Linked DNA regions of Homo sapiens: region 1 is linked to region 2. The links come from fine-mapping of genetic effects on gene expression. Tissue or cell type: monocytes. Region 2 holds a variant in brackets; the other region holds the start of a gene. All regions are shown on one strand. Distances are between the middles of the regions.

Evidence for each region. PIP is the estimated chance that this variant, and not a neighbour inherited with it, causes the effect.
Region 1: it holds the start of SLC12A4, and the variant in region 2 is fine-mapped to the expression of SLC12A4 in monocytes (Quach 2016, PIP 0.95).

The regions. Positions count from the first base shown.
Region 1 is chr16:67,967,507-67,970,120 of GRCh38, reverse strand. It overlaps SLC12A4 (solute carrier family 12 member 4), which reads left to right and starts at 1,484. Exons shown (of 24, transcript NM_005072.5): 1 at 1,484-1,682. The coding sequence starts at 1,568. RefSeq lists silencers at 1,232-1,561, 1,692-2,021, 2,532-2,591.
Region 2 is chr16:68,161,611-68,164,110 of GRCh38, reverse strand. All of the region lies in intron 4 of NFATC3 (nuclear factor of activated T cells 3), which reads right to left. Among named protein-coding and RNA genes, the nearest start is that of MIR6773, 71 kb to the left of the region's middle. RefSeq lists an enhancer at 1-547. The variant G/AG (reference allele first, on the strand shown) is at 1,522.

The DNA of each region.
Region 1 (2,614 bases), 190 kb after region 2:
AATTTTTTTGTATTTTTAGTAGAGACGGGGTTTCACTATTTGACCACGCTGGTCTCAAACTCCTGACCTCAGGTGATCCTCCCGCCTCAGCCTCCCAAAGTGTTGGGATTACCGGCGTGAGCCACCGCGCCAGGCCTGGATCAGGAATTTGATAAGTGAGGGTAGGGACAGAGGCTAGGTAGATGTCCCCCAGAGTGAACAGTGGGTGATGCCCAGAAACTATAGGTCTCAGGTGAGAGAGAGAGATTTGAAGGGCTGAGGCTGCGAGGTGGGTGGCGAGGGATGCGCCTGCAGAGGTCGGGGTCCGGCCGCATTGGGCAGGGCCTTATGGGCCCGGAGCTAGTAGGATTTTCCTTCAGAAGAGGCGGCTCTACGTGAGCAGGGGCGAGGGCAGGGAGTCCAGTAGGAAGGCCGCTACTGTGGGCGGCCGAAGGTGGCGTGAGGGGCGGGGGGGTCAGGTCGGCGGGCCCGCTGCGGGGGCCCTGGGGGAGGGGTCAGAGGGTGGTAAGCTCGGGGGTCGTCTTGCGGGGCCCAGCGGCTCTGATTCCGTACCCCCCACCCCAAGGGCTGGAGGCTGGCAGTAGGCGTAGTCAGAGGACGCCACCCGAGCCACGCGAGGGAGAAGAGTGGAGATAGACAAGTAAGATGGGCTCTGGGGTTTTCTGATAGAGAAAAAAATAGTAAAGCCAGCTAGATAAGTAATCTGAAGCAGTGGAGAAGAAAGTGAAAGAAACGTTAAAAGCAAATAAGTAAACGGCTTGGATAGAGGAACACCCAGGAGGCGAGATAGAGAAAGTTAAAATGAAGGGACTTGGCTACAGCACCCAGTGCACTGTCCCAAAAAGGCAAGCGAGGCAAGCGGGGCGGGGAAGGGTGGGTGTGCGTGTTCTTCCTGCGGAGGACGCAGCAGCCCCTGGGGAGGGACCGAGAATCCCCAGCTGCCTCCAACAGGAGAGGCTGCAGCTAGAGGGCCCAGGGCTGGGACGGGACCTTCGCGGGGGTCTGGTTCCCAGGGTCGCGGAGAAATGGGATGCAGACGCTGGAAATGGGAAGGAGGTATACGGGGTTGGTGGGAGGCCCTGGGCAGGTGGCTTCTGCAGTCCTGGGCCGGTCCGGCCTACCCTGCCCCGTCCCTAAGTAACAGAGCGCTTCGTAAGCCCAGGGCGCAGAGCCAGGACACTCCGCGACCCATCTCACGGAGCCCTAAAACAACCCCGAGGTGGAAGTGTGTTTCCCCCATTTTACAAATGTTGCATCTGGGGCTCAGAGAGGGCGGCCTCTCACCCGAGGTCACACAGGAATCGGGCCCGCCCCCAGGCCGTGGAGCCACTAGGAGTGCTCCCGCCCAGGGGTCTTCCCGCCACCAGGGCCCCCGCTCTGGGAGGAGCCGGCCGAGCCCCTCCCGCTCTCCGCCCCCGAGGGGCGGCCCGGGGGGCGGGCGGAGGAAGTGAGCGCAGCGGGGAGGAATGCGAGCGGGCGGGGCGTGTCGGCCCGGGGCGGCGGGGACAGCGGCGGGGACAGCGGCGGGCGGCTGGGACGGCGGGTGCGGCGGGGCCGAGCCCGCACGATGCCTCACTTCACCGTGGTGCCAGTGGACGGGCCGAGGCGCGGCGACTATGACAACCTCGAGGGGCTCAGTTGGGTGGACTACGGGGAGCGCGCCGAGCTGGATGACTCGGACGGTGAGGGCGCGTTCTGAGGGGCCGTGGCGGGGCAGCGGGGCCTGCCACCCGGGGCCGCCATCCCGGGCCCGCGCCCGCACCTATCCCGGGACCTTGCGCGCACACGTCGGTGCGGACTCAACTTTTTTTGGACCGCGCCGCTGCCACTGGCTCCCCGCCCTGCGCGCGCAGACACGATTTTCCTCGGCCCCCGGCGCCCGCGCCCGGCCGCTTTCTCCACCCCAGCTCCTCCCCTGTGGGCCCCGGGCGGGGGCTGCAGACGTGGCCGCCCAGGGAGGCCAGCCGGCCGGGCCGCCCGGCTTGGGGACAGGGCCGAGACCCCATCTCAGGCCCTTCCCGGCCCTTCAACTTCGGTGAATCCCACATCCTTTTCTCGCCTCGGTTCCTCATTTGAGATTCAGCGTCTTTGCCTTTGAGACGATCCGCTCCCCAACTGCCCAAACCCCTCCGTGTGCCTCTCTGCGCCTACCTGCACTCTGGCCAGAGTGTGCCTACTGGGGGGTCTATGGGTAACTGCCCGTGAGTGCGCCGGTGTAGATCTGTAGGGACAGTGGGCCTCAGTGAAGCACTCACATGGAGCCGGACGTGTCTAGGCACTTGAAGTGAGTTAACTCGTTTAATCCTCCAGCATCACCCTTGGGATAAGTACTGTTACTCTCATTAGGAAGCAGTGAAGGGAGGGGTGGCGGTTATATAACTTGCCCAGGGGCAGTCAAGCCTGGGTTTGAGATTCCAGCACCTTAACTCTTTAACTTAGGTGCCAGGGCCGAGAGGTAAGCCCCATCTCCCTCCTCCTTCCTCCCAGGTGCCCGCGTCTCTCCACAGCCCTTTCTCTATCTCCTACCCCAGGAGGCCCCCCAGAGGGCTGTTCTTGTTAAGGCCCACCCTCGGAGCACGAACACGGCTGAGGACATGTGTCTGTGTACGTAGTG
Region 2 (2,500 bases):
GTGCCTAGGCTGGAGTGCAGTGGCGTGATCTCGGCTCGCTACAACCTCCACCTCCCAGCCGCCTGCCTTGGCCTCCCAAAGTGCCGAGATTGCAGCCTCTGCCCGGCCGCCACCCCGTCTGGGAAGTGAGGAGCGTCTCTGCCTGGCCGCCCATCGTCTGGGACGTGAAGAGCCCCTCTGCCTGGCTGCCCAGTCTGGAAAGTGAGGAGCGTCTCTGCCCGGCCGCCATCCCATCTAGGAAGTGAGGAGCGCCTCTTCCCGGCCGCCATCCCATCTAGGAAGTGAGGAGCGTCTCTGCCCGGCCGCCCATCGTCTGAGATGTGGGGAGCGCCTCTGCCCCACCGCCCCGTCTGGGATGTGAGGAGCGCCTCTGCCCAGCCGCGACCCCGTCTGGGAGGTGAGGAGCGTCTCTGCCCGGCCGCCCCGTCAGAGAAGTGAGGAGACCCTCCGCCCGGCAGCTGCCCCGTCTGAGAAGTGAGGAGCCCATCCGCCCGGCAGCCGCCCCGTCTGGGAAGTGAGGAGCGTCTCCGCCCGGCAGCCACCCCGTCCAGGAGGGAGGTGGGGGTCAGCCCCCACCAGGCCAGCCGCCCCGTCCGGGAGGGAAGTGGGGGGGTCAGCCCCCCGCCCAGCCAGCAGCCCCGCCCGGGAGGTGAGGGGCGCCTCTGCCCGGCCGCCCCTACTGGGAAGTGAGAAGCCCCTCTGCCCGGCCAGCCGCCCCGTCCGGGAGGGAGGTGGTGGGGTCAGCCCCCAGCCCAGCCAGCCGCCCCGCCCGGGAGGTGAGGGGCGCCTCTGCCCGGCCGCCCCTACTGGGAAGTGAGGAGCCCCTCTGCCCGGCCACCACCCCGTCTGGGAGGTGTACCCAACAGCTCATTGAGAACGGGCCATGATGACAATGGCGGTTTTGTGGAATAGAAAGGGGGGAAAGGTGGGGAAAAGATTGAGAAATCGGATGGTTGCCATGTCTGTGTAGAAAGAGGTAGACATGGGAGACTTTTCATTTTGTTCTGTACTAAGAAAAATTCTCATTCTGTTGATCTGTGACCTTACCCCCAACCCTGTGCTCTCTGAAACATGTGCTGTGTCCACTCAGGGTTAAATGGATTAAGGGCGGTGCAAGATGTGCTTTGTTAAACAGATGCTTGAAGGCAGCGTGCTCGTTGTTAAGAGTCATCACCACTCCCTAATCGCAAGTACCCAGGGACACAAACACTGCGGAAGGCGGCAGGGTCCTCTGCCTAGGAAAACCAGAGACCTTTGTTCACTTGTTTATCTGCTGACCTTCCCTCCACTATTGTCCTATGACCCTGCCAAATCCCCCTCTGCGAGAAACACCCAAGAATGATCAATTAAAAAAAAAAAAATGATCAACATGTTCTTTGATCTTTGCTTGTCTTTCTTCAGCCCTTCTCTGTCTATAAAGTCAACCTTGTCGGAACACTTATGTATTTTATGGAATGAAGTGTTGCCCAATTCCAGAATCACCAATAAAGCCAATTGAGATGTTTAAAAAAAAAAAAAAAA[G/AG]AGTTTAGGCTTGAAATAACCAAGCCCATGGCTTAGTAGGCAAAACCAAGGGAGTATCTATGAATTTTTCCACACCTTATTGCCTTAAGAGAACAGTAAAGACACTTAATACATACTTAAGGTTCACTTATGCATAAATTATTTTGAACCATGGTCTTATCTATCACCTGGGAATTTTAAACCTACCATTATCTGGAACTATATTATATTCAACCACTGTACTGAATAATATAGTTACATTCAACAAGCTACTAGGATACTAGTTTATCCTAGCAATTAGCTACTGAGTAAACAGGCTCATTCATCATTAGCTACCCTGGTATCTACAGTACCTAAAAAAAGTTTCTTAGGTTTAGTAACATCCTAGTTGCCCCTTATTTAATCCTTTCTCCAATATACATAACGCTTGGGTCCTACAGAACTCCTGTTCCACAATCTACCAGTACAGAGCAGATAGAATGGTCAAGAAGTTTTAGGTATGTGTGTGGTAGGGTTGCAGGAGGAGGACTACCTGTATGTTACTAGTCATAGTGGTATTTCTGCAGCCTGGTCCTTTCTGGTCTAAAATACACAGTACATGCTAGATCTGGTTGAGGAAGGGACATAAATTATGACTATTACCCTTGTTCCATGTGCTAGTAAATGGAAGATGATGGAGGAGACAGGTAAATTTAGATCCTACTGCTCCAATGCTTTCATATTATTTGGGATATGAGCCTTTCCCAATTTCTTGATAATTTTTCATAGAAATTAATATACTCTTTTCTATTTATTGGTTTATATATTATTTTCAGAAAGGATATGAGGCATTTTACAATATAGATACAAATAAAGCCAAGAAAAAATAAATAGAAAAAATTTTAAAACACTAGGAAGTAAACTCCAAGTCTAGAGTTGTACAAATTACTATAATTACTGTAAACGGGCTTGACTATGAAGTTCTGGAAGCCAAGGCAAAAAGTAAATGTGATAAAGTTGT